3 separate regions of the Homo sapiens genome follow, and all the other regions are linked to region 3. The links come from fine-mapping of genetic effects on gene expression. A gene starts in region 3. Each other region holds a variant in brackets. All regions are shown on one strand. Distances are from middle to middle. Region 1 overlaps GLB1L3 (galactosidase beta 1 like 3). Region 2 holds the start of GLB1L2 (galactosidase beta 1 like 2). Region 3 holds the start of GLB1L3 (galactosidase beta 1 like 3).

Evidence for each region. PIP is the estimated chance that this variant, and not a neighbour inherited with it, causes the effect.
Region 1: its variant is fine-mapped to the expression of GLB1L3 in testis (GTEx, PIP 0.94).
Region 2: its variant is fine-mapped to the expression of GLB1L3 in thyroid (GTEx, PIP above 0.99).

What each region holds. Positions count from the first base shown.
Region 1 is chr11:134,312,954-134,323,518 of GRCh38, forward strand. It overlaps GLB1L3 (galactosidase beta 1 like 3), which reads left to right. Exons shown (of 20, transcript NM_001080407.3): 16 at 443-521; 17 at 988-1,075; 18 at 1,377-1,488; 19 at 5,678-5,794; 20 at 5,924-6,611. The coding sequence ends at 5,989. It also overlaps the pseudogene LOC100421417. Among named protein-coding and RNA genes, the nearest start is that of GLB1L2, 14 kb to the right of the region's middle. The variant T/C (reference allele first, on the strand shown) is at 5,695.
Region 2 is chr11:134,324,270-134,333,004 of GRCh38, forward strand. GLB1L2 (galactosidase beta 1 like 2) reads left to right here and starts at 7,719. Exons shown (of 19, transcript NM_001370461.1): 1 at 7,719-7,878. The coding sequence starts at 7,793. It also overlaps a transcript of GLB1L3 not described here. RefSeq lists a silencer at 7,569-7,868. The variant T/TA (reference allele first, on the strand shown) is at 5,507.
Region 3 is chr11:134,270,913-134,281,477 of GRCh38, forward strand. GLB1L3 (galactosidase beta 1 like 3) reads left to right here and starts at 5,467. Exons shown (of 20, transcript NM_001080407.3): 1 at 5,467-5,851; 2 at 6,414-6,539; 3 at 6,788-7,000; 4 at 10,465-10,533. The coding sequence starts at 5,829. RefSeq lists enhancers at 1,930-2,485, 4,626-4,735, 4,796-4,925, 5,076-5,125 and a silencer at 5,576-5,645.

The sequences.
Region 1 (10,565 bases), 42 kb after region 3:
AGACAGTCAGCCTCCCTTCTCCACCCCTGCTGCTGGTGCTGCTGCTCACCTGGGGCGGCGGCAGGAAGTGTGCAGGGCTGGAAGCCAAAGTGCCTCCCAGGCCCTGGCCCCTCAGGAGCTACCGCATGTGTGCTGGAGGGGAGGGGATTTCCTCACCAAGTCCTGAGCCTGTCCTCAGCCCCTGGTTGGGTTTCTGTGCCTTTTGGAGTTGGTTAAAGGTACAGCTGAGTCTCTCTGCCTTTCCTAGTAGGATCAGCAGAGGGGAAAGGGAAGATTGACTATAGGAACACAAGGCAGTCCTTAGGTGAAGGGAAGACTGCTGGGCCCTGGAGCCTCCTGTTCTCCCATGTGTCTCTCCATGTGGGACTCAGTGAAAAAACGGGTTGTCGGGTAGACGCCCTCCATGGCTGCGTGGTCTCCATGACCTGGCCTGTCCCAGCAGGACTGCCGATACCTGAGGATCCTGGTGGAGAATCAAGGACGAGTCAATTTTTCATGGCAAATACAGAATGAGCAGAAAGGTGGGCTCTGGCTGTGGCTTCTCCTCAGTTGCTCAGAACCGAAGACCCGGGCTATGCACTGGAGTCGGGGGCGGGAGAGGGTGGGGAAACCAGCCGCTCAGCAGTGGGCTACCCAGGCCCTGGGAGCAGAGATGCAAAATCGGCCCCTCGCCCTTGTCTTGCCTTCTCTGATCTCCAGGGCCAGAGGGTGGGGCCAGTGTGTTCGGTGCTGGCTTGTCCTCAAGCAGGGCCAGTCTCCTTTTGGGAATTTCAGGAAAAGTTCCAGTACTAAGTGGGGGAACTTTCTTGGTAGTGTGGAAACATACAGCTAGAACCCTTCAGTCACAGCAGGTCAGACAAATGTTTGCCCTCCTGGCTGTGCCCCTGTCCTAAGGCATGTACAAGTCTGCATTGCTTTGTCCCAGATGCTAGAGAATATCCAGTCCTGGCTCATATTCTCTTTCCTGCCTCCCATCTGCATCTGCAGGAATAACTGGATCTGTCAGCATCAATAACTCTTCCCTGGAGGGCTTTACCATCTATTCCCTGGAGATGAAAATGAGCTTCTTTGAGAGGTATGCTCCAGCTGGCCCCCAGTGCACACTTCAGTGATCGGGGAACTCAGAGATTTCAGATTCCTCATTGCAGATAAAGAGTCCAAGATAGAGACTGAGTGATGTACTCCAGGCTGTTGGGTACTTCGGCGTCAGAACTAGGGCCCTGGAACAAGTGTCCTGATTCTGATCTTAACGCATCTAGTCTACTCTATCTCATTGAAACAGAACCTTAGGCTCGGCCCACGCCACCTGGGGTGGGTACTGGGAACTGGGTTGGGAAGGGGACTTCTTCTCCCCCATGGCTTGGCCTTTCTTCCAGGCTCCGCTCTGCCACCTGGAAGCCTGTCCCAGACAGCCACCAGGGCCCGGCCTTCTACTGTGGGACCTTGAAGGCTGGCCCTTCTCCCAAGGACACCTTCCTGAGCCTGCTGGTAGGTGATGCCCTCTGCTGCCCTGGTGTTCCAAACACCAATTTTATTTTTAAAGAGTCCTGAAGCAAAGCCAGCGTTCCTGGAGGAATACTTCCCTTTCTTCTTTTCCTCTTCTTCCTCATCTCCAACCAAGCCTTCCAACATTGATCAGTCTTCCTAATTTATCACTGTTCAGAGAATAACACATCAAAGCACAATTAAAAATTCAAACAATAACAAGAGGGAGAGAGCAAAGCATGAAGTTCGCCTTTGAACCCACCCCCATTCCAATTAGTCTCTGCTTCTCAGAACTCAACACTGCCAACAGTGGTACATTTTTATATATAACTTTGCCTGAACACACACGTACACAATTATTTTTACACTAATAGAATTGTACTATGTATTCTGAAGCTTGCCTTTTTTTTCTGTGTGGGGTGAGTTGGTAAGTTAGTTTTTACTTAGAATATCTTTTTCTGTATAAATACACATAGATAACATAAATGTACAAAATGTGAATGTACAGATCAACAAATGATCACAAAGTGAACACCATATAATTATCACTGAAAGTTAAAAATATTGTTGGCACCCCTCCCAACTGCTGCCTTGACTTCTAACACCCTAGGCCAGTGTCTCCTATTTTGACTTTATGTAAATGGAATCATACAGGGCATCTTTTTTAAATATGTTTTCTTTTGTTCAACATTGTGAGGTTCAGCCATTTATCGATGTTGCAGTGATTTGTTCATTTTCACTGTTGTATTGGGTTCATTTAGTAAATACATTATAATAATTTATTTAACCATTTTACTTTTTCTGAACATTTGGATTATATCTAGGGCTTGTCTATGGTAAATAATTAAGACTTCGTTTGTGTTTATGTTCATAACTGAGATCTCTTTGTCAGGTTTTGGTGCCAATGTTTAGGGATCTCATAAAGGATTTAGGAAGGCGAATTTGTGTAAGACAAGTATCACTTCTTAAACATTTAATGGAGTTCATTAGTGAAGCCTTCTAGAGCTGGCATTTTCTTTTTGAAAAAGTGTGTGAGTGTGGATTCAATTATTGAAAGATTAAAGTACTATTCAGATTTTGTTTCTTTTAAAGTTAGCTTTGAGAAAATATATTTTTCTGGAAATTTTCCCATTTCATCTAAATTTTCAAATATATTGCCTTTAAAATATTCGTTTTTGATGTCTAGATCATTGGTAGTAACGTTCCCCTTGTCATTTGTTACAGGATATCGATGCACTCTTTTTTCTTGATAATTCTCACCAGAACACTATCAATTTTATTAATTGTTCAAAGTACAGTGTTTGGCTATGACTCTTACTGTGTTAAGTATTTATTTTCTGATTCTGTCATTATCTTTATTATTTTGTTTATTCAATTTCTTAGTTTAGGATTAATTTGCTTTATTTTTATAATGTCTTGACATAGATACTTAGATAATGGACTTTCAGTCTTTGTTCTTTTTAATTATATGAATTTAGGTTATTAATCATCATTTACGCGTGGATTTGGTTGCATCCTCTAAGTTTTAAAAAGATTTTTTGAGGTAAAATTACATAACATAAAATTAGTTCTGTTAAAGTGAACGATTAAGTAGTCTTTCATGCCTTCACAATGCTATGCAGCCTCTATCTCCAGTTCCAGCACATTTTCATTATCCTATAAACATTGGGCAATTACTTCTCCATTTTCCCCTTCTCCCACCGCCTGGCAACAGCAATCTTTTTATTATCTTTATGGATTTGCCTATATTGGAAATGACTCCCATACCTTTTTTTTTTTTACACGTAGAATAAGAATAAATTTATTGTATTTATTTTCATGACTGAAGAATTACATTCTTCAAAGCAAGAATTCAGAATGTACATAATTATAAGCCATATTTCATATCAGTGCATTATTTTTATATTATACTTTCTATTATATGGGTAATGGTTCATATTGAAATACAGAAAAAATAAGTTGTAAGACAAGCGATGTCTATATAGGAAGAGATGAATCATTTTAGTGTCTTATTAGTTGGATAATTGCTGCTTTAAGGTTGCCATGTTAGCCTAACAGTTTAATCATAACTATAAATTCTATCTAAAAAATAATAAAGGTTTCATAACAAACAGCTGATACTAAAGGTGAGCACTTCACCTGTAGGTGCTTCTCTGAAGGTGTCAAGTAGACTTCGGTATGTGCATTTTAGAATGTCTTAAAGATGATTTTGTAAGGAGCTGGCAGGCAAATTAAGCCCAACAAAAGAGAAGGTCTGCAAATTATCCTGCAGGTTAGGGCCAATCTTCTTGAGTCTGCTAGGAATTATAAAATACCTACTCTTGCTCTTTCACCTCTAAGTTTTAAGTTGGAATTTTACTTTTCCTTCATACGGCTGTGTGGATTGTTGAAGGTCACATGCTTCACAAGCACTTGCCCATAATGACAACTTCCATGTTTTGGGGGACATTGAGAAGCTTCCCTGGGTCCAGAACTTTGCTATAGTAGGGCTGTGCTTTCTTCTCATATTAAGGCAAATAGTGTAGACCGAAGGCGCCATTTGGCAGGTAGTATTCAACCTGAGGCACTGGATGTCCTGGAGGCAGTGTCCAGAAAGCTGCAGGCCACTCTGGGGGCCATGTTGTTGCCGGGGGGAAACTTGATGATCTTTACCAATCAGTTTATACTTTTTGTGGATTCTTGGTACTGTTTAAGTTCCTTTCTTTTCAAGTTGAAGGACTTCCTTTAGCACTTCTTGTAAAGCAGGTCTAGTGGCGATGAACTCCCTCAGTTTTTGTCTGGAAGTCTTTATCTCTTATTCATTTTTGAAAGACAGTTTTGCTGGATGTAGTATTCTTGGTTGCCAGTTGATTTTTCTTTTAGCATTTTAAATATATCGGTCCATTCCACGCTAGCCTGCAAGGTTTCTGCTGAAAAATCTGCTGATAGTCTTATACCCTACAAGTTTCTATCAATTTTATCATCATCATCAAAGAATTCAAATATTTTCCAACTTCCTTTGTCATTACTTGTTAGATTTATGGTTTATTTAGAAGTGCTTTTCTTAATTTCCAAGAATTTGGATATTTTAGGGTTATCTTTTTTATCAGTTTCTTTCTTAAATGCATTATAGTCTGAGAAGTTTATGTGAAGACTAGTTTAATACAGGATCAAGCTTGTAAATATTCTGAGGTATACTTGAAAGAATATGTGTATACTGTAGATGTTAGATCAATGTTCTATTATGTCAATTAGTTCAATTTTGTTAATCATCTTCTTTTAAATGTTTTATGTCTTTATTGATTGTTATTTGCTTTGCCTATTGACTATTGAAAGGTTGTATAAAAATTTCCCGCTATGGTTGTAAATTTATTTATTTCTCTTCTGTCAATTTCGCTGATATGTTTTGAATCTCTGCTTTTATCTTTCTTATGTATGTTGTATATACATTTTTGGTAAATTAAGAATTTTACCATCATGAAATGTCCCTCTTTATCTCTAATAATGCTTCTTGCCTTAAAGTATTATTTTTCTGAATATTAACAGAGCTATAGCAACTTCCTTTTGGTTAGGGTTTACATATCATTATCCATTGTTTTTCTTTTATTTTTCCAATGCCTTATGTTTTTGATGCTTCTCTTATATGTAGCATATAACTACTTTATTTGAAATCAAGACCAGCAACCTTTGCCCTTTAATTTGAAGCATTTCAGAGACTCCAATTTTATGTGCTAGACTGTTTTGTTATATCCCAGAATAAGCAGGTGCCTCTAGTGGAAAAACTGCCTAGATGTCTCCTTGTCTCTCCATTTTCTTCTTCTAGATCTTGATCCTGTAATTCTTCATTATATTGCAAGCAGATTTTTAAAAATGTGCAGCTTTTATATTAATAGCCACTGTCAGCAGTGGTGTTCATCACTATTACCTGATATTTATTTCTGGAAGTAGAAGATCTGCTTTTTAAAATATATAACATTATATATCACATAACAGGAACAATAGCAGCCTTACCATTAAAGGGTTGGTTCTATTTATGCTTTTCTCTTTCATTCCTAGACAGCAAGGTAGAAGTTCTATAACATATCCCACTCTAAACTCACCTTCATTTGAGTGCCATAAAGTATCTCAATCTTGCTCTCACTCTCCAAGTGCCTTAGGTTTTACCTTGCTAATGTGAACCAATTTCCAAATCTCAAGCCACCATTCCTTTCAGAACTGGAATTATGGATT[T/C]GTGTTCATCAATGGACGTAACCTTGGGCGATATTGGAATATTGGGCCTCAGAAAACACTGTACCTTCCTGGAGTTTGGCTTCATCCAGAAGACAATGAGGTATGTCACTCCAGTCTCTGCCTTGAGATCTCATAAACTTTCAGATCAAAATGTGAGTTGCAGTGTCTTTTTCAACCTGTACTAAATAGGCTTCACCTTTCCCACTGTCAACCTTTCTTTTCTTCTCAGGTCATCTTGTTTGAGAAGATGATGAGTGGCTCAGATATCAAATCTACAGACAAGCCCACGCTGTAAAACTGTGTCTGAACATTTTTTTTTTTTTTTGAGATGGAGTCTCACTTTGTCGCCCAGGCTGGAGTGCAGTGGCACAATCTCTGCTCACTGCAAGCTCAGCCTCTCGGGTTCACGCCATTCTCCTGCCTCAGCCTCCCCAGCAGCTGGGACTACAGGTGCACGCCACCACGCCTGGCTAATTTTTTGTATTTTTAGTAGAGATGGGGTTTCACCAAGTTAGCCAGGATGGTCCCAATCTCCTGACCTTGTGATCTGCTCTCCTCAGCCTCCCAAAGTACTGGGATTACAGGCGTGAGCCACCACTCCCGGCCGTGAACATATTTTTTGGGTTGCTGGAGTTCATCTATAAGTCATTTTTGAGGAATAAGATTTATGTTAAGACTATCAAACACAGTGTTGCCTACAATAGCAAAAATGTGAAAATAACAACAACAACAAAACAGCAGAGGAATTGTTATGTATTTTGTAGTCTATCTATATGATGCCTATTTTTAGGCTTTAAAAAGTCTTCAAAATCTTTAATGACTGATTTATCTAGTTAAATGCTTAATCCTTAGCAGGCTCTTATTCTTTAATTAAACGTGCCTTTGAGTAGATGTGAATAAAATAAAAACAAGTTTCATTTCTGCCTCCCATACTCAATTGAAGGGAAGGGAAAGGTCTGAAGCCTGGGGAAGAGTAAGGATACTGATTTCCTCATGCCAGAGAGAGTATTGCATGTACTAATGGGCAAACTCACGGTCTCCCTCCTCTCTCTCTCTCTCTCTCTCTCTCTCTGTGTATGTGTGTGTGTGTGTGTGTGTGTGCGCGCGCGCGTGCATGTGTGTGTGTGTATGTAGGAGTAGGGGAAAGGAGAGGGCAATGAACAATGTCTTTCATTTCCCTTCAACTATGTGTCTACAAGGTGACCCTGCATGTCACATCTAATCAGAGAAGGAACAGAAATTTGGTCATTTGCTTCAGACACGTGTGACAACAAAGCTAGCGCAGGGTTCTCTGTGTCTTCTTACTCCCTGTCTATCTGGCTATAGTCAAGGCTACTACTGATAGTGGGTAGGCATTAGTGAGATTAGCCACACACACATGAATATTCCAACCACTATGAAAAGCCAGTGGAGCCATTTGAAAAAAATGGCACCATTGGGAACCAAGCACTTTCTTATATACAAAACACAGCACTTGGCCTAAATTCAAACCAATGCACTATAAGCAAATCTTATCACCCTGTTAAATATAGTGCCTAGGGCTTTCAAGTAATTTAGTAAGTAATCTTGTGTCCAGAGGGAAGAGAACCCTCTGTTTGGATTGGAATGAAGATAAAGATGTCAGATTATCTTCTCTCCCACTAGTCTGAATGACTATTTCAATGGAGGAAACTTCTGTGAGATACCTCCACAATTCTACATAAAACTTTATTCTCTGGGGATCTAGCCTCAAACCTATGAACTCTATAGAAACTGCAATGTAAAGGAGGGAAGCAGAACTAATAATCATAATGATCTTGAGTACATATTATATTTCAGGTGTAACATCTGCAACATCTAAACTTAACAACAACCATGCAACATATCCATTTTACAGATGAGAAACCAAGGTTCAAAGAGGTATTTGAAATCATGTCTCTCTGATTGGCACCTCCTCTTTCGCTACTACCTTAGTTCCACACGTATGCCAGTCTTTTCCAAATATGAATGCAAAAATGCTATTCAGAAGATATAATGCTTTCAGTGCACTTAGAGAAAAAGAGCTCACAACTTAGAATTCTTTACCCAGCAAAACTATTTTACAAGAAAAACAAAAAAAAAAAACAAAATATAGAACTTTCTGACAAACAAAAACCAAGAGAGTTATCATCAAAAGATCCCCACTAAATGATGTTCTGTAGCGGCCTTTCTCAATGTCCCATAAGAGAATTAAACACTGCAGAAAGTGTCTTCAGTGACTAGTTTCTCATTATATCATCTGGATGCATATTAGAGACGTTAACTCATTACATACTGTGGATGTCTTGGGGCATTACATCTTCACGCTCTCAGGGAACCACAGTTGAGAAGAAATTTCTAAAAGATATGCCACGAGCAGATGGAAAGTCTGACTTTTAAGAAAGAACGTGGAATCCAAGAAGGATGCTGACATATGTGAGAGTGAATATGGACAAACGTTAACTCCATAGAAATAGAGCCAATGTCTAACTTGAGGTAGCATCAGCATAAAACTCTAAGACCAGGCAAAAACACTGTGTAAAGCGAGAGGGATGTGATGGCCAAAAAGTGATCTAAGATTTCTGTAATTCTCAGATATTAACTTTAGACTTTGTTGAATATTCCTAGTTAATAAACTAAGCTTAATGTTTAAAGAATATACATAGAGCTTTTAACTTTCTAAAAAAATTAGGAGGATAAATAGAGTAAGAAAAAACAAACAAACAAAATCCTCTAACCAATAAAAGACAAAAGATAGTAGAAGATAAAGAAGTAGAAAAATAAGTACAAGTATAAATCATGCTGCTATAAAGACACATGCACACGTATGTTTATTGTGGCACTATTCACAGTAGCAAAGACTTGGAACCAACCCAAATGTCTATCAATGATAGACTGGATTAAGAAAATATGGCACATATACTCCATGGAATACTATGCAGCCATAAAAAAGGAGGAGTTCATGTCCTTTGTAGGGACATGGATGAAGCTGGAAACCATCATTCTCAGCAAACTATCGCAAGGACAGAAAACCAGACCCTGCATGTTCTCACTCATAGGTGGGAATTGAACAATGAGAACACATGGACACAGGAAGGGGAACATCACACACTGGGGCCTGTCATGGGGTGGGGGGAGTTGGGAGGGATAGCATTAGGACATACACCTAATGTAAATGAGGAGTTAATGGGTGCCGCACACCAACATGGCACATGTATACATATGTAACAAACCTGCACGTTGTGCACATGTACCCTAGAACTTAAAGTATAATAAAAAAAAAAGTACAAGTAGAAACACATATTAAGACAGTAGAATAAATACAGATATATCAGCAACCATAGTAAATTTTATAAATGCGCTAAACTCTAAACGGTAAAAATTGTCAGACATTATTTAAAGAAAACTATAAATATTTGAGTTTTACAAGAGATACACCTTTAACATAAAGATGCAATGATCGAAAGTCCAAGGATAAAAAATATGCTATGCAAATTCTAACTGAAGGAACTATAGTAACTGTATTAACATCAGGCAAGTAGACTTAAAGACAGAAGGTGTTACTAGGTATAGAGGGTTACCCATAGTAATGGAAATTCAATTCCTGAGAAAGATATACTAATTTTGACTTGTTTTTGTCTGAAAATGTAGCTTCATAATATGTAAAGCAAACATTTCCAGATCTATATGTAGAAATAGAAAAATAAAAGTACCTTGTACTTGAGAAACGTTTGTTCTACTTAAAAAGTTGAGATACGATTCATATACCATAAAATTTTTCAAAATGAGTTGTAAACTCTTTTAAAGTCTACAATTCAGTAGTTTTTAGTAGGATATATTCACGAGATTGTACCAGCATCATCACCATCTGATCTAGAACATTTTCATCACTCCAGATAGCAGCCCTTAACCTGTCAGTAGTTACTCCTGATTCCCCTTTCCACCCAGCCCCTGGCAACTATGAATTTACTTTCTGTCTCTGTGGATTTGCCTATTCTGAACATTTTACGAAAGTGGAATCGAATATGTGACCCTTTGTGTTTGGCTTCTTTCATGTAGCTTAACGTTTTCAAGCTTCATGGATGCTGTAGCATGTATATTCTATCCTTTTTCATGGCTGAATAATGTTCCATTGTATGGATACATAGCATTTTGTTTATCCATTCATCAGTGGATGATTATTTGAGTTGTTTCCACTTTTTGGATATTATGAATAATGCTACTATGAATATTCATGCATAAGTTTTTGTGTGGTCGTATGTTTTCCATTCTCTTGGTTATATACCTGGAAGAGGAATTGCTGGGTCATACGGTAATTCTGTGTTTAACTTTTCCATAAAGCATTAAACTGTTTCCAAAGTGGCTGCAGCACTTTACAGTTCCCACCAACAAGGTATTAGGTTTCTAAGTTCGCCACATCCTCACCAACACTTGATTTTAAGCTCTCTTTTTGATTACAGCCATCCTAGTGAGTATGAAATGTTATCTCACTGTGGTTTTGATTTGCATTTCCCTAAAAACTTGTCCTCTTAAACATTGAATCCAAACATGTAACAATGAAGTCATGCAATTGGACTTTAAGATAACAAAAATTGGCTGGGCGCGGTGGCTTATGCCTGTAATCCCAGCACTTTGAAAGGCCAAGGTGAATGCATCACCTGAGGTCAGGCGTTTGTGACCAGCCTGGCCAACGTGGTGAAACCCCGTCTCTACTAAACACACACACATGCGTGCGCACACACACACACACGTACACACACACACACACACACACACACACAATTAGTCGGCCTGGTGGTGGGTGCATGTAATCCCAGCTACTTGGGAGGCTGAGGCAGGAGAATCGCTTGAACCCGGGAGGCGGAGCTTGCAGT
Region 2 (8,735 bases), 52 kb after region 3:
GATATTTTAATAATATCACTGATTGATACACAGTAAAATATAATTCAGGAAAACATATTTTAGTAGCATGTTTTGTAGAAGGAGCTTTGTACCTCGAAGTCATAACTTGGGCAGATTTAAACAATTCTTTGGCAGCCAAAAAACTACTAAAAATACCAGCATATAGCAATTATCCTGAGAAGCTTTTTATTTAGTCTCTGCAGACTCAAAGCTATAAGAAATTATCTTTTAAAAGTGTTATTATAAATCTGTCTTTTGAAGTTGGATTAGTGAGAACATAATGTGCCTAATTTTTGCCGACCACTATCGTTTTTTCTTTGTACCTTGTCTGTTCTTTGTTCTGTCTGAGCTGAAAATGATTTATCATAGATGTAGCTGCACATAATTTTGGAGATTTGCCTTCTCATGAAATTTGAGGTGGCAAGAATCCCCAAAGAAGACTTTTTCTTCAAAGATTCATGGCCTGAATGATATTAAATAATAACAATAAATTTGGTATAAACCACATTTTTATAAAAAACACATGCATGTTGTTTAGTGTAATAAATGGTACTCATCAAGCAATTCTAAAATGATAAAAATTGTGATATAACATAATCTTTATTGTGTTAATATATATTTATTACTTATACATTTAAATTTATAATTCATATGATATAAAATGTTTACATATTTTATACTACATTTTATATTTTAAAAACATATTTTCTATACATTGTTGGCTTAAAGAGGATATCATATTCTTCCCAAAGTTATAAAGTTATAAAGCTAATGTATGCTCTCCACATTCACATGAGCTGTCAATCTGTTTCCTTAGGTGCTTCAACATTTGAAAATTCTTAATAATTGTTTTTGGACATTAAATCAACAGTTTTTATAATAATCAGTAATTGCTTTATTTCACTTTAACCTGCTGATAACATTTTAATGTTTCACTTTATGTTACATCTCAAATGCATACTTGCATTTCAAAGTGAGTACAGTCGTCCTGCAGCATCCGTGGGGGACCAGTTCCACCATCTACTATGGATACCGAAATCCACAGGTGCTCAAGTCCCTGATATGAAATGAGGCAGTATTTGCATATAATCTATGCACGTTCACTTGTATCCTTTCAATCATCTTGAGATTATTTATAATACTTAATACAATGTAAATGCTATGTAAATAGGGTTATACTGTATTGTTCAGGGAATAATGACAGGAAAAAAGTTTGTACATGTTCAGTACACATGTGTTTTCTTTGTAGTTTTCTTCGTTTTAATTTAAAAATCTATGGGTACATAGTAGGTGTATATATTTATGGAGTGCATGAGGTATTTTGATACAGGTGTGCAATGTGTAATAATCACATCAAGGTAAATGGGGCGTCCATCACCTCAAGCATTTATCCTTTCTTTGTGTTACAAACCATCCAATTATACTCCCATGTAAACGGACTCTCTCTGTCACCCAGGCTGGAGTGCAGTGGCGCGATCTTGGCTCACTGCAACCTCCCAGGTTCAAGCAATTCTCCTGCCTCTGCCTCCTGAGTAGCTGGGATTACAGCCATGCTCCACCATGCCGGCTAATTTTTGTATTTTTAGTAGAGATGGGGTTTCACCATGTTGGTCAGACTGGTCTTGAACTCCTGACCTTGTGATCCACCCGCCTTGGCCTCCCAAAGTGCTGGGATTAGAGGCGTGAGCCACCGTGCCTGGCCTCCCACAGTTATTTTTAAATGTACGATAAGTTATTGTTGATTGTAGTTATCCTGTTACTACCTATTAGATACTAGATCTTATTCATTCTATCTAAATTCTATCTAAATTAGATACTAGATCTTATTCATTCTATCTAAATATATTTTTGTACCCATTAACTATCCCCAGTCCCTCCACTCTAGATGTGAATTTTTTACAAAAAAAATTTTTAATCCATGGTTGGTTGAATCCACAGATGCAGAACCCACAGATACAGAGGGGTAAGCGTGTTCTGATATTAACAACAAATTCCGGTGACACGCCTCACTCTCACATCTGGCAGGGTTACGACGTGGATTTGAAATTAACCTCAGTGATCACTCTGTTGTCAAGAGTTCAGTGAGGACTTAAACTATCTCATATGCTCCAACCTAAAGCTAATCCCTTCACTTGGTCACCTTGTCCCTACACTTTACCTCCTCAAGGGTTTCACAACAGAAATTCTCTACGGTCTGTCCTACCTCACCAGTTTTGTCTGCTGATCAAGATCACTATCAGCATACAAGCATGCTGTAGTAGAAATGAAAATAGAACACGGCTCTTGATTCAGTTCCCTCTTCTGCCCCAGTTACCATCCCATTTATGTATTCCCTTTCTTATTTATTTATTTATTTTTGAGATGGAGTTTTGCTCTTGTTGCCCAGGCTATAGTGCAGTAGTGTGATCTCAGCTCACTGCAACCTCTGCCTCCCTGGTTCAAGTGATTCTCCTGCCTCAGCCTCCTGAGTAGCTGGGATTACAGGCACCCACCACCACGCCCAGCTAAGTTTTGTATTTTTAGTAGAAATGGAGTTTCACCATATTGGCCAGGCTGGTCTCGAACTCCTGACCTCAGGTGATCCACCCGCCTCGGCCTCCTAAATTGCCGGGATTGAAGGCGTAAACTACCGCACCCAGCCTATGTGTCCCCTTTCTAGCCTATATTCTCAAAAGAGTCATCTACATTAATGGTCTTAGATTTCTCTTCACCCTTCCTTCCCGAACCCATTCCAGTTGGCTTCCCAAATCCCATGACCCCCAACTCCACCCAAGCTGCCTGTGTCCAGTTCACCAACGTTTACCACATACTAAATCCACGGGTCGATCCTCAGTGTTGCTTTAACCTCACCTGTTGGTGGCATGGTTCCTTGCCTTTTCTCAGTGTTAGGTGTGCCAGGGCTTGTCCCCATCCCCTTTCTCGGTCTGCACTTTGTTAATTGGTGCAGGTTCTTGCCTTTAAATACCAGCTCTCTGTCAACTCCTAAATTCGTATCTCCATCCCAAACCTCTTTCTGGACCATCAGGATTGATGTTCAGCAGCCTGCGTGGTGTCTCCACTCCACTCCACTCAATGCAGCAGGTCCAAGCTGAGCTACTGATGTCTCCCAGAAACTTGCCCATGACCTTCCCCATCTCAGGTCACAGCGACCAGCACTTCTTGTTTCTCAGGCCCAGCCTGTGGGAGACATTCTTAAGCCCCCTTTATTTCTCTCCCCCTACAAACAATCCACGAATTGCAACAACCCTCTCATGTCTGCTTTCCGAATACTCCCAAAAATTCAACACTTCTCACTACCTCCACCGCTGTCCCCTGAGCCAGCATCGTCTCCCATATGGATTACTGCATGGCACCAGTGATCCTTCTAAGTTATCATCACCGCCATGTTCAAACCATGCAGTGGCTCCCATTTCATTCAGAGTCAAAGCCCTGCTCTTAAAGGCCCTGCATGATCAGGCCCCTGTATCTCTCTGTCCTCATCTCCTGCCTTCTTGCCATCACCTCCCACGCTGTCCTCCTAGCCTTTCCTTGGACACCAGGGACACCAGGTCATGCTCCTTCCTGAGGGCCTTGGTACGAGCTGCTCTGTCTGCTTGGACAGTGCTTCCTCCAGGTTCTATCTTGGTTCGCTTGCATGGAGAACTCCCACTGTGTTCCGATCTTTGTTCAGCTAATGTCTTTCCGGGGAGACCGCCTCTCTGCAGACCCCTCCCCACCACATTCCCAGTCCTCCTTCCCTTATTACTTTTTTTTTTTTTTTTTTTTGAGATGGAGTCTCACTCTGTTGCCCGGGCTGGAGTGCAGTGGAATGATCTTGGCTCACTGCAACCTCCACTTTCAGGGTTCAAGCAATTTCTGGCTAATTTTTGTATTTTTAGTAGAGACGGGGTTTCACCATGTTGGCCAGACTGGTCTTGAACACCTGATCTCAAATGATCTGCCTGTCTCAGCCTCTCAAAGTGCTGGGATTACAGGCGTGAGTCACTGGGCCTGGCTCCCTTATTACTTCTTAAATTTTTGCAATGGAGTTTACTACCTTTGAATATACTCTACAGTTTACTTATTCATTCTGTTAAGTTTTATTGTCTTTCTTCCCTAGCTAGAACAGAAATTTCAAAGAGAAGAGATCTTTGTTCTGTCCACTGATACATCCCAAGCATGTGAAACAGTGTTCAGTATGTTGTTTATGGTCATTAAAATTTGTCATTTACTTTTTAATAAATACAATGCTGCAGAATTAGATCTTTGGCTATTAGGCCTTCAAAGGCTGAGCCTACAAAATGATAGTTAGGCTTGGTAAGGCCAAAGATCAAGTTCTGTGCATCCTTATCGGATGTGCACAGGCCCCTTCCAGTCCCACTCACATATCTTTGGGGCTGAAAAGCTTTGTCTACTTCCTTTATCTTAAATCTGCCTTCTCTTTTCTTTTTCCTAGGCCAAATCTCCATTCCAGGACTTTCTATTTTGTTTTGGCTAGGGTTGAAATGGCCCTCATTTATTCCCAGGAATTCTCCTGTGCTCTGAATTTCTTTGTTCAAGACCCCTGGCAACTTGACATCATAACTGGACTTTGCTTCTCCTGAGGGGAGGGTGGATGGGGGTTGCTGGACAGAGGTGTCTGTCCATAAGGAGGAGGTGGGGAGGAGAGGGTTATATCTTGGTCCAGGGGCCCAAGTGACTGTACTATCGTAGAAGCCACATTTTTCATCTTATTCTCATGACTAAAAGAAATTTTGCCAATGTTTTCCTAAAATTCAGATATCCTGTGTTTAAAGCATTAGCAGAGTGCCCTCAAAAATGAGTTACGTGAATGAATAACTGATCTGTAAACCTGTTACCTATTAAAAATAAAAAGTGAAACAGCAAATGAGACTAGTTTGACATGATCGCTTTTCCCACGTGACTTCACTGTACTGATTTTGAGCGAGTGTGGTTTTTATTCTCCTGTGTGTGCATTTTGTATGTGTTTCGGTTTCCCGCTGATTATCTGTGATACAGGAATTTTCAAGGAAGGAACTGTGCCCTCTGGGTCTGTTGGAGCTCTGACTTAGAGCAATGGAAATGGCACACCAACAAGATTTAACTTTTTTAAAAAGCATTTCTTGTATTTTCTAAACCCTGGACACTAGAAAGAAGGCCTGGGAAGAGGATGATTCCTGTGTACCAGGGATTCATTACCAAGCCAAGCACCTTGGCAGACCACTTTTTTACCCCACTCTTATGCCAGCTCATTGTAACTGTAGCTTTTGTTCCCAGGGATTTGAGTATTTTCACTGTCTGCTTTGGGTTAAGATCACTAAACATTTTGGAAAGGAGACACTGAAGGAGTATCTTGCTAATTTTTTTTTTTTTTTTTTTTTGAGACGGAGTCTCGCTCTGTCGCCCAAGCTGGAGTGCAGTGGCACGATCTCGGCTCACTGCAAGCTCTGCCTCCTGGGTTCACGCCATTCTCCTGCCTCAGCCTCTTGAGTAGCTGGGACTACAGGCGCCCGCCACTACGCCCGGC[T/TA]AATTTTTGTATTTTTAGTAGAGATGGGGTTTCACCGTGTTAGCCAGGATGGTCTCGATCTCCTGACCTCGTGATCTGCCCCCCTCGGCCTCCCAAAGTGCTGGGATTCAGGCTTGAGCCACCGCACCCGGCCTAATGTTTTAAAAAACAAAAGTCTCAGGCTGGAAATGGTGACTCACGCCTGTAATCCCAGCCCTTTGGGAGGCCGAGGCAGGTGGATCACCTGAGGTCAAGAGTTTGAGATCTGCCTGGGCAACATGGTGAAACCCCGTCTCTACTAAAAATACAAAAATTAGCCGGGGAAGGTGGTGGGTGCCTGCAGTCCCACCTATTCGGGAGACTGAGGCAGGAGAATAGCTTGCATCCCGGGAGGCATTGCAGTGAGCTGAGATTGCACCACTGCACTCCAGCCTGGGTAACAGAGTGAGACTCTGTCTCAAAAAAAAAAAAAAAAGTCTCAGCCTATGAGCAAGACGCATCTCGGGTTAGTGCTAACTTTGTAGCATTCTGTGGTATCATTAAGCCCAGATAAAGTAAAATTGTTCCTAGACTGTGAGCAGGGTGTGTCCCTAGTTCTGAACATCCCACAAGGTTAAGGGGAAATTTTTTTGAAAACACTCAGTTATGTATATTTTTCTCGCACAAATAAAAACGAAGGATACAAGGGTGGGCCAAGGAGTTCACGGTTTTCACAACCCATGTTAAGTTTTTGCTAACGTTTGAAGAAAAATGGAGATGCTTGTATTGCTTAAACCATTTGAGAATTCCCTTATATTTGATAGATTCTGCCACTGTTCAACGTGACCAGAAGTGAGAGGATGAATGTGGGGTGCATGTCTTTCGGATGGTCCCCTGCAGGCAAAGGGGCTAGCCTTTGACAATTTCTCCACACGCTTCGGGGCTAGCTGGTATATTCCAATTAAACCAACATGTTTCCATCACAGACTTCATAGCCATCAAGCAATCATAGCCTTACCCAATGGAGAAAAGGAGCGGGCTTGGAGCGCGTCCACGGGAGTGGGCCTCCCTCTGCGCGCCTCTGGGAATGTTTGCGGTGCTTAAGTCAGACCCGGATTGCTCCAAGCCCAGCTTATCCTCCCCAGTTCTGCCAGGGTTTTTTTCCTCTTGTTTGTTCGTTTGTTTTTGCCTCTCTTTGATTTAACTTTTGCTCCTTGACTAAATATGTGCTTAACGCTAGACAAAGGACACTTCATACCCAAGTCTGTGTCTTTGTTCCAAGATCTGCAATTTCATTTGGTTCCTGTCGGCTTTACAAGTTCAAAACTATGCCCCCGTTTAGGAAATGAATTCAAAGCATGCGGCAAGGGAGACATTCGACAAACCCGGATGCTCTGGAAAACGTTGCCCTTCCTCGAGTTTCTTTCAGTAAAATCTGAATTTTGTTCCCGGGAGGAGTTGGGTTTGTGATTGCTACAGTGTAAGTTGCACCGAAATACTACATCATGTTCTTTGGGACATACATTCTGTTTCAGAATAAGAATGATATTCTTCCTTTCCTAAAATGTGAGAGTTTTATATGGACCTTTTTAAAATAAAAAATTGGAAGCCCTTGGAGTCAAGGCCAGAGTAAGACTCGCAGAAACCAAAGACAGAAAATATTTGGAACCCCCCCTCCTCAGACATGAACCACACTGAAATGTGTCCAGATACAATTCTTCAAAATCCTGGCTTTTCACAGGATGATTTGTTATTGAAAAAGTTGTTTGCTTCAGAATCTGAATTGTTTTAAAAGATTCTGTTGGTTGCCCCTGCTTTGCGGACGCCTTTTGTACGTTCTTCCTGATGTAGCGCTGCGAGGGGCGACTTTACCTCGGCGTTTGACAGGTACGCAGCATTCCCGCACCCGCCTGCGCCTCGCGAGCAGAAAGACGGCGGACTCTGCACCGCTCCACGACACTGGGGACCCGCCCCGGCCAGACCCGTCCCCTACCGAGACCTTGTCCCCGCCCCGCCCCCGGCCGGGGCCCCGCCCCGCCAGCCCCGCCCCCGCCAGCCCCCTCTCCTACCGAGACCTCGTCCCCGCCCACCAGCCCCGCCCCGCCCCCCCCCCGACAGAGGCCCCGCCCCGGCCCCGGCCAGCCCCGCCCCCGCTTGCGCGAGGCCTAGGGCTGCAGGCGCGGAGCCGCGAGCCCCAGCCAATGAGCGCCGGCGGGCCGGTTGCCCAGGCGACCAGTGCGCGGCTCCGCCCCCCGCGGCGAGGCTCCCGCGCGCGGCTGAGTGCGGACTGGAGTGGGAACCCGGGTCCCCGCGCTTAGAGAACACGCGATGACCACGTGGAGCCTCCGGCGGAGGCCGGCCCGCACGCTGGGACTCCTGCTGCTGGTCGTCTTGGGCTTCCTGGTGCTCCGCAGGTGAGAGAGAGCTTCGCGCAGCACCTGCCGGACCCCACATTCCCCAGCCCTCCGCACCTCGGGTTCTCTCCTCCCGCGACCCGCGAATCCCGAGTTCCCGGGGGGAGCAGCCCCAGCTGCTTCTTTCTGGGAGCTCCCCAATACCCCCGAGTTCCCCTGCGGCTGCAGGCACTCTACTCCTGCCGCGCGATCCAGGCCTCTGGGCGACACCCGGCGTGCCCTCGGGAGCCGGCGTCTGTGCCCCGAGCCGCCCACCCCGCCGCGCCTGTGACGCCGGGCTCTGCCCCCCGTGGACGCCCGCAGCCCTCCAGCCGTCAGAGCCCTCTCAGACGCACCCCATCGCGGCCCCGTCCCCACTGCTCCGCGGAGAGCTCCCTCTGCCCTTCCCCCAGGCCCCCCTTTTCCTCCCAAGCCTCTGGGAGGCGCCTTATTCCGCAGAGGCCGGCGCTTCAGCCTGGCAGGTATGGTCTAGCCAGCTGGCCTGGCAGGGTCGTAAGAACAGTGTCCGTGGGCCTCCAAGATCCCGGGCCATGATTTATTTGCACAGTAGGACTGATAGGTCGTCTCTCTCCACTTTCCCACCATTCACCTGTTACCAGCTCACCCTTTCCTCTCCCCCTTTTCCAAATGTTGTTTATGGCAAAGGAGTGGCTTCAGTGATACTGTGATTTACCCACAGCCTGTGAAAAAGTTTTCTGGGTGCCCTAGCCCAGCATTTTTCTAAACTGTGCTTATTTTAAGGATTCTACAGCCCTGACCCTATCTTTCAGGTCAGCACTTTCCATATTCAAAACCTCCAGTGGGAAGCCGACCGGCAGTATCGAATGAACTGAACGGTTGGAAGTGGTGGCAGGCCC
Region 3 (10,565 bases):
GAAACTTCCATTTTATCTGCAAACCAATGTGTGGGCATAAGAGTCTTCCACCAGACTTGAAGGTGATCAGAGTCTGAGAAGCATATTTGAATCATCTCTTCATCCTCAGTGCCTTCCTGGCACATAGTAGGGAACTCAATGTTTATTGAACAAATAGAAAAAGACTGGAAAAAAAGGATCATCAGCAATGATCGCTTCTTGCAGCTACTGGCAAATCTCACACAGTAACAGAGAAGATATCCCATCAAAAGTCAACTCATGGCTGGGCGCAGTGGCTCACGCCTGTAATCCCAGCACTTCGGGAGGCTGAGGCAGATGGATCACCTGAGGTCAGGAGTTTGAGACCAGCCTGGCTAACATGGCAAAACCCTGTCTCTACTAAAAATACAAAAATTAGCAGGGCATGGTGGCGGGCGTCCGTAGTCCCAGCTACTCAGGAGGCGGAGGCAGGAGAATCACTTGAACCCAGGAGGTGGAGGTTGCAGTGAGCCGAGATCACGCCACTGCACTCTAGCCTGGGCAACAGAGCGAGACTCTGTCTCATACAAACAAACAAGCAAAAAAACCAAAAAACAAAACAAAAGCAGCACAGGGAGTGAAAAGGCAAACTCAGAGGCAACACACTGTGTAATCCATTTACGTGGCATTCTGGAATCAATGCCATTATAGAGTTTGAAAACAGGTTAGTGCTGCCAGGGCTTAGAGTTAGTGATGGGAGGAGGAATATCCACACACGGGTGGCATGGGAGCCCTGTGGTGTCCAGGCAGGTCTGCAGACCGGCTGCACAGGGGCAGCCCAGTATTGCCTCCCTCCCTGCCCACAGTTCCGAGCTTGCTTAGGGGAGAGCGCAGGTGATCAAGGATTTGAGTCAAGGCAAGGTGGGAGAACAGGGCAGTGGCGAGACAGGTGGTTGGGTCTGGGCTTCAGTGTTTAAGTAAGGGGTTCTGTGCCTGAGATTCAGGCCCCAAGGGCAGGGTTCAGGAAGCCCCTGTGCTCCATGGCATTCCTCAGGGAGAAGCCTGACCAGAGGCAAGACTTTCTGAGGCCCAAAGCTCTGAGAAAGTGATTGTGCCCCCTCCCCATCCCCACAAACAATATTGAACTGTAAAGGGGTCTGGTATGCCAAGGAGTTGGATTTTATTCTGTAGTAACTGATACCCACATACAAAAGAATAAAATTGGCCAGGCGTGGTAGCTTATCCTTGTAATCCCAGTACTTTGAGAGATTGAGGAGGCAGGTCACTTGAGCCCAGGAGTTGGAGACCAACCTGGGCAACACTGTGAGACCCCATCTCTACAAAAAATACAAAAATTAGCCTGGCATGATGGTGTGCACCTCTGGTCTCCCAAAGCGCTGGGATTACAGGTGTGAGCCACCACGCCCAGCCGAAAAAACAGAAGAATTTTTAAGCCTTCTAATATTTGGATATAGTTTTCCATGTTCCCATAGTTTATTTTATAGACCTGATGGTTTAGAAGCATTTCACTTTCCGCTTTGCTAGCCACGTGGTTATACTTTAATTTTAAGTGCATTTGTGTGCTTTTCCTGAAGCATTTTCACCTAGGCCATCTCACTTAGTTTGAACAAGAGCAGTGCTTCGCACGCGGCTGCTTGCTGAGCAGAGTCCAGCGAACCGAATTGGGCAATATGAGACTGAATCTTTCCATTCCAGGGCCTTCAGATCCCAGCTGTCAACAGCCTGCTGTGTGACGTCACTGAAAGCCTCTGTGCTCTAGTTTCCTCACTGATAAAGGAGGGATACTAATGGTACCCGCTTTCTGGTGCTGTGAGAGTTAAGAGACAATAGACAGAAATGTCAAACATGCAGAACTGTGCCTGGCACACGAGTGCTTGGTAAATGTCAGCTATTCATAACAGAGGAAAAAACCTGATGAAAATAAATCACTTTTGGATAAGGATTTTAATATTCTTACAGACACTCCCCATCCAGCTCTTAGCTCAATGGATCAGGTTATCTGCAAGGACAGCAGCCTCTTGCTGGGTGCCCCATGGAGACAGCGATCTTCCCTCCTCTCTTACCTTCTCAAGGGTGGCCCTTTTCCATCACCAAGGCTGCACTCATGCAGAGAGGAAGCCTTCCCCCCCGACCTGATCAGGCTGATTAACTTCAACTCCCAGGGGAGAAGACTCTTGAGAACACACTTTAACCTTGGGTTCTCACCTGGAGCTCCGCATGATTTTCCATTTCCTTAACTAATGAATGCATCTAGCAGACTCAGTCCATAAAAAAGGCACATTTGAATGATAACAGCCAGAGCCCGGTGGCCGAGCTGGGCTGCCGCCTGCTGAGCAGCTCCTTTAGAAAGGCCTGCACTTGAGCGTTAGTTACCCTGTGGAGGGACAGGAGGCCGGCTGCTTCACTTCCCTCTGCTGGGAGTGGCCCTGCGTGATGGGGTGCATATCCACTTCATTTATTTTTTAATCTGTGGGAGACAGGTTATCAATTTACTTAAAGTTTGAATGTCTGTAAGGATGAAATTTAAAGCTAGGGCTCTGAAGATCTCTAGCAGGGATGTATCTGTCATCTACCTATCCCTCCATCTCAGCCTGTGAACTGCGTGTCATCATGGGTTAAATTAATTACTAAGAGACCACGGAGTCCATTTTATAGCTCAAATGAGCATTTTTCATTTCCTGTAGTAAACATGACTTAAGTAAACAAAGAGTTTCTCTAACAAGGATGGCTTACAAGTAGAAGTGGCTAAATTTTCACTTTTATAAATTTTGCTGCTTTTTATTAACTATCAATAAACCTAGAAAGATGATCTTACAAGTAAACAACAGATTTTGCATACTTTAACCTTAAAGATATCTCTGCCTCAACTCTTTGTTCACAGCTCTCTGACACTGGAATATTAATAGTTGATAATCTTTCCCTTTAATTTTTCACTGATAATATTAGTTCCTAACCCAGGTTTTTGGATCTCACAAGGGTTCTTATTATACAGTTGTCACATACATTTCTTTAAGAAGTTCAACCTAAGAAGAAATCAAGAATTGTCTTTTCTGGTTCATACATTAACTCCTATAGGGTTGTCCACTACTAAAGCAACAGAAAGTGCTGCCTTCTTTTTCTGGAAGCTGCTGTTCTTACAAGAGAGCAATTTAGGAGCAGGAATTGTGCTTTATTAACATCAAAGCACTGGCACAGGAAGTTTGCACACTCAGCTCTGGGAGCTTTTTGATGCTTTCTGCCTGCTTTGGGAAATTAGCTCTTTGTTTCATTATCAGTTATCTGGATGGAAACTGAAGGGAAAAATATTGATTTTTTTTTTTTTTTTTAATAAATTGTACCAGGATGCTGGGTCTGCGGCCCTAGTGGCTGGTCTTTCCTGTGCTTGGGATGTTGGCCTTGTAGAGTTACTTCTGTAATCTCAAGACAGAAACTGACAGCTTTGTTTGATCAAAATTGTTACTTCACCTTGCACATTTTCAAGAGTTCTACAGGTTTAATGAGCACAGAAATCTGGGGGAACTTTCACTCTCCAGGGCTCCTTCATAGAGGTTCTCAAATACTCCATCAGCAGAGGGGAGCCCCAGATGGCAAAAGGACACAGGATATGTCATCTTTCAAATGAACCAATAATCCATTATTTGATTCTTCTACCTTTGTCAAAATTCCTCCAGCAACGCCTGCAGAAAATCACAATTCTTGATACATAGCTTGTTCCAATAAAGCACCACAGCATTTCTAGTGACTGCAGGCCCAGCTGTCAAACTCTTTCAACTTGATAGAGAATATGTACACAAAACCTATAGCTGTCATCATACTTAATAGTGAAAAACAGAATGTTTTCCAGCTGACACTGGGGACAAGGTAACAGTGTCAGTTCCTGCCGCTCTTATTCAACACAGAAATTTTAGTCATCATACTAAGACACACAAAAAAAGGAATAAAAAGCCACGCAGACTGGAAAGGTAGAAATAAAACTCTCCATATTTGCAGATGACATGATTATCTACATGGAAAATGCCAAGTAATACACAAATAACCTCTTAAAATTAATAGGTGAGTTTGCCAAGGTCACAGGATATGAGATCAACATGAGAAACACAATCACATTTCTGTATGCTAACAACAAACATGTAAAAACTGAAATAAAAATAATAACAGTTTAAATCTCTTGAGAGCAAAGGAAATATTTAAGTATAAACCTAACAAAACGTGATAGGATCTGATGTTGAAAAAATCACACAATTCTGATGAAAGAAGTGAAAAAAAAAAAACTATTTAAATAGACAGACATACCATGTTCGTGGGTTGGAAGATTCAACATAATAAGGATACAATTCTCAATTTGATCCATAGGTTGATTGCAATTCCTCTCGAAATACCAACATGGCTTTTTGTAGAAACAGACAAGTTTATTCTAAATTTTATGTGGGAAGGCACAAGCCCTAGAATACTTTAAACTTGACAAAGAAGAATAAAGTGTGTGGCTGTAAAACCAAACTGTAAAAAATTAACAGTTCATTGCTTGCAGTCGAAAAAATGAGGAAAAGATGGACGATCTAGGAAACTTTCAGGGAGCTAAGGTGTCGGAGAGCAAAGTATCCTTGTAAGGAATGAGACAAGATAAACTCCCTCCCCCACACACAGTATTTTCAGAGAACTACATTCTTGGTTTCAACCTGATGTCATAGGCTGTGTTCTTTGCAACGGAAGAAGCAAAGACTTCAAAGGGAGAAATCGGAAGATTTCTTTTTTCATCGTAGGGACTTCACATCAGCGTTTCCAAAACCGAGTCCATCGCCTTTTCCCTCTGCGCAGCCTCTATCCCTTCCTGTGTTTCGCATCTCAATAAACGTCCCCGCCAAGTGACTTCAGCCTGAAACATGCGGCCTCCCGGACTCCTCTCTGTGTCACCGACCTCTTGCGCTCAGTTCTCCGGAGCTGCCGGTTTAACCTCGCAAGTCTTCCCGGAACCCGTGCCCTCCTCCTGGGCAGCGTTACCACCACGAGCGCCTACCTGAGAGGACGCCTGTTCTCATCCAGCCTCCACCCTGCAGCCGAGCAATCTCCGTAAAACGAACACCTGGCTTAGTTTCTGCTGGAAACCGTTGAATAGTCCCCACTGTCTTCTGGAAGGGTCTGGGCAGCTCGGCGTGGCGTCCACGGCCCCACCAGGCCTCTGCCTCCTGCAGGTCCCGCTACTTCGTCACCAAAGCGCCCGCCGCGCTCGCATCTGCTGTGAGGCTGTGCTCGGGCCGCTCCCGCCGAGGGAACGGCCCTCCCAAGGCTCTGCGCCCCAATTCTCGCTCGTTTGCCAAGAGGTAGCCGTGTCGGGGAGCTAGAGTTCTCCGGGGACTCTCTCCTGCCCCTCGTGGCCCTCTGTGGAACCCTCGTTTTAGGATCTGCACGCCGTTTCCAGTCGCGCGCGCGGCACGGAGACCGCCCGCTGTGCCCCGCGCTGCGCTCTCTCCGCCCCTCTCCCGCGCAGGCCTCCCTGTGCCAGCCGGCTGTCGACCCAGGTTAGGAAGCCCGAGGTCGGGGCGTTACCCCAAGGGCCCTCCCGCTTCCCCTCCGAGGGCAGAGAGGCGTCCGCGCCCGGACGCACTGCGGGAACACCTGGAGCGCCGGCGGAGCTCGGCTGTCCCCGCGGGAGGGAGCCCGACGCGCATCCTTGGGACCCGGACCCGGCGCCCGCGCCTCGGGACGGATTTCTGCCTCGGCTGCAGGCGCAGCGCGCAGACCTGAGCCTGCCCCGCGGAACCGGGGCTCGAGTCCCGGCCCGAGCGCGGCGTCGGGGCCAGCGGAGAGGGGCGGAAGCCGCAAGGGACCCTCGGCGCCTCGGCCTGGCCGCGATGAAGTCCCCGCCCCTCCTCAGGTGACGGATCGCCGCTGCCGTCCCGGGCTGCCCACCACCCCGGCGCGTGCCCGGGAGCCTCCACCCTCCCCGGGTTCTGTGGCCGGCCACGCGCCCCAGGCACGCGCCGCGCCGGGCCGCGCCACCAAGCCCGCTGTCCCCAGCTTTCCTCGGCAGATCCCCTGGCTACCCCCACCCTGCGGAGGGGCCGTTCACCAGATGCCAGAAAATCAGGGTGGGGCACGCAGGCCAGGGGCTCCAGCGGCTGGGCACCGTGTCCTTCCCGAACCTGGTGCTGGAAGTGCGCCCGCCTCCGCCTCTCCCAGGCACCCACCGGCACTGCCCAGCCCTGTCTGGAGGGTCTAGGACTGAACGTCTGTCCCCGGCCTTCATCCTGGCTGCAGAGGACTGGCCGGGTGATGCCGCGCTGTCCTGGCCCTGGGCCCGCCTGGAAGACCCGCCTGTGTCGCGGGCCCCCTCCCTGGCTCTGGCCTCTAAAGCGCCCCCGGCACAGCTTCCCGGCCCTTGCAGCCCGGTGGGGCCGGAACCTTCCCCTTGTCACTGTTGTCCTTTCTCCTTTCAGCCCGTGTCTCTCCTGGAAGAGAATGGCGGGCATCTTTTTCCTGCCATTTATCTCATCAGGTTTTGCTCCTCGGTTTAAGCAGGAAGAGAACTTCATGCTTGGAAGAGCGCATCCGTCCCAGCCTAGGTTTGCTTGAGAGCTACATCCCTGGGGAGGGAGGGGAGCGATCTCTCCTTTCTTGGAGAAAATAGTATCGCGAATATGCACAGAACACGTCCTACTAACATATGCACAGAACACGTCCTACTAACATATGCACAGAACACGTCCTACTAACAAAAACTTCTTTTCGCTAGGGTTTCAGCCGTGCCTCCGAGCCCTCTCCCGAATCCTCTCTCCCTTTCCACTTTCTTTCCCTCGCCCGCCCCCTCCAGGTTTAATTGGTCTCATCTGACCCCTCTGGAGCTGAAGAATCGATCTGTGGGACTTGGAACTGAAAGCACAGGTCGGGGTAAGCCCCACTTCACACTGGAGGGCCACAAGTTCCTGATCTTCGGGGGCTCCATCCACTATTTCCGGGTGCCCAGGGAGTACTGGAGGGACCGCCTGCTGAAGCTGAAGGCCTGTGGCTTCAATACTGTCACCACGTGAGTGCCGGCCCCTCACCTCCAGGATCTCGTTACCCTACAAGTGCATCCTGGCCGGGAACCTGAGCCTCCGATTTTGGGGGCCCAGCGTGAGGACTTACCTTCCGCACAGTCGTTTCCAGCACATACATTTAATGCTTAAGCGTCCAGCTGTCACTTAGTCTCATGCTGAGTTTGCTCTGTGATCAAAGACTTGGATAGGGGTTAGTGGGAGAATCTCAAGGGAGGAGGTTATTTCCTCAGGATTCTGTCTGTCTAATGAAGGAACACCAGGCGCCCTTGGGAGCACTCAGTTTAATGACATAAGCTTAAGGCACACTTACAGATAAATATGTACTTACAGATACATGCATGTTTTTAAAACAAAAAAAAATTTTTTTTTTTGAGACACAGTTTGTTGTTCTGTTTGTTGCTCAGGCTGGAGTGCAGTGGCCCGATCTTAGCTCACGGCAGCTTCTACTTCTCTGGCTCAGGTGATCCTCCTGCCTCAGCCTCCTGAACAGCTGGGGCCACAGGTGCATGCCACCACACCAGGCTAATTTTTTGAATTGTTTGTAGAGATGGAGTTTCGCCATGTTGCCTGGGCTGGTCTCAAACTCCTGGACTCAAGCAGTTCACCCTTTAAAAGGGAACACCACGGTCGTCCTCATGCCTGTATACAACTGACCAGCCACCCTGTATGACCACAAAAAAGCAAAACTGCTCCAGAATCAGAGGCCCTGTCCTCCTGAGGGCCTGCCACCACCATTTTGTGGCAAGCTTACCATCACACTCACTGTAAAGGAGAAGATGCTTAGAGGGCCCTGTGCCTTATTGCAGAGCTGGTATTGAAGGGTGAATTTGAAGCTGAGAGGCAGTAAACTGGTTCATTTAAAATGCAAAGAATTTAATCAGAAATAATCGTTGAGTTTTATTGAGAGCTGCTACTGCATGTATTGGGGGGACAATATAGTTTTTCTTCACTGTTCTTTTGAATTGCTGAATTACAACGGCAATTTTTCTGATAGTCAAGCAGCCATGTGGTACTGGTATAAACTCTGCTTGGCTCTGAGATAGGCACACATTACATACACACAGATTGCTAGACTTTATTTGCTAGTGTTTTATTTCAAATGTGTTTATGATTATAAGCAAAACGGATTTAAAATTTTATTTTGTTAGTATTCTTGTCCAGTTTTGAATCAATCTTATAATAAGCTCATAAAGTGAGTAAATCTTCTTTTCTTACTTATTGGAAATATTTTGCACAAGAATTATCTTTACCCTGAAAGTTTCTTAAGATTCACCTGTAAACTCTGTGACTACTATCTTTTGTGGTTTGTGAGGTGAAGGGTTTGGGGACGACATAGCTCTTTGAATGGTTATTAACTCATGTCCTCTATTTCTTCTTGAATACATCCTGCTCTCCCCCTTTTTTTCTTTCCTTTCTTTTTTCTTTCTGTTTTCTTTTTCTTTTTTTTTTTTTTTTTTTTGAGATAGAGTCTTGCTCTGTTGCCCAGGCTGGAGTGCAGTGGCGCGATCTCTGCTCACTGCAACCTCCCCCTCCTGGGTTCAAGTGATTCTCCTGCCTCACCCTCCTGAGTAGCTGGGATTATGGCTCCCGCCACCACACCCGGCTAATTTTTGTATTTTTAGTAGAGATGGGGTTTCACCATATCGGTCAGGCTGGTCTCAAACTCCTGACCTCAGGTGATCCGCCTGCCTCGGCCTCCCAAAGTGCTGGGATTACAGATGTGAGCCACCTCGCCCAGCCTTCTTTCTTCTTTTGAACCCACTGGGACTTAAGAAATTTTTCCTTTCTTTCCTGTACTCACTTGGAAGTTATATACATCACGTTGTGTATTTTGGCTGTTTTTTTCTTTTTTCTTAATCTTATCTATTTAGTCTTTTCAGATAACTAGCTTGTAGCTTTGTTAGTACTCTCTGTATATTTCGGATCTGTATTTCACAGTTTCTGAGTTATGTGTAATTTCCTTTTCTCTACTTTATTAAATATAGTACCTTCTCTTCTCTGTCCTTCTCAGTTTCCTCCTCCTCCTTCTTCTTTTTCCCTGAGTTAAAATTTAGCTTCTTTTACTTCCAGTCTTTTGTGTTTTCTAATATATTCCTTCAAAGATATGAATGTTTCTCTGAGTGTTGCTTTGGTTATATAGCCCACAAATTTTGCTATATAGTGCTTTGAATGTCATTTATTTTCAAATATTTCCTAAGTTTTGATGTTGTTTCTATTAGCTATTTGGGAATACGCTTTCTGTTTTATTTATTTATTTATTTATTTAAATTTTACTATTTAACTGTGATTTTTAAATTTGTTTGCATTTATCTTGGGATCATGGACTATGTGATATAGGTTTTTGGAATTTGTTGAGATTTACTTCGTGACATAGTACATGCCAATATTTTACAACTGTTTCATGCATTTTAAATTTTGGTCTTTTAAATTTTACATTCTTTTTTCATACTTAGTTGTACAGATGCGCTTTTTAAGGGAATGTAGATGCTCCATCTGTTGGCTACTGGGTTCTCTATGTATTTATTACATGCCGACTTTTAATTACACAGTTCAAATCTGTATCCTTACAAGTTTCTTCTTTTTCTTTTTTTGCTGCTTATTTTCTTTGTTTCTTAGAGGGGTACTTTAAATCTTTTCACTGTGATGGTAACTGATGTATCCAGGTCCTCTCTAATTCAGTCAGCTTCTCCTTTACTTACGGCAAGCTATGTTGTAACTTACAACATACAACAAGCTACGTTGTTAAGCTCATAGAAGGCCATGATTAGTATGTCTTCTTGGTGGGCCATACAGTCAGTTCTACGATGTATTGTCAAAAATCTCTGCACTGCACAAAATTGTGTAATAAAAACCACAGGGCTTATAGGAAACATGATGTTAAGGGGCATAACACTCAAACATGTTGCCAGTGGCACAAAAAAACACAGTTGCCTAGTGAACTATGCCTGGTATACCTAATAAAATTTTTACTCATAGCCCTATGGGGGAGGGTCCCCTGGGGGCCCTTCTTGCTAAGGTCTAAAGGTAGTACCCTTACTAGATTTACTGTAACTCCACTATCTTCACAGAAACTCCTCATTTATTCTTATTTTGACTAACTCATAGCAAAAATTTATAAGGAAGATGTAGACATTTTTGTTTTTGTTCTCTTTTTTAATTTATACTTTTAATGAGTGTTACAATAGGGCAGTGAGTGGAAGAATTTATATATAAATCCCAAGAAACCCAGCATCATAGGATAATTGGCAGCTTGAACCACAATTGGATAATAGAGCAAGGAACTATTAAAGATGGTCATGGTTAGTGTAACAGAGGTTTAATTTCCACTGGTAACTTCAACTTATTTCAAAATAGAGCTATGCATGGTTTTGGCTTGGATTTGGGGCAGACCTAACAATTTGGAGGAAGAAATAAGAAGATACTCATCATACTTCCCTCTCACCTCTTCTAGCTATGTTCCGTGGAACCTGCATGAGCCAGAAAGAGGCAAATTTGACTTCTCTGGGAACCTGGACCTGGAGTATGTGGTGTTGCTGCTTCTGTGCCCTGGTC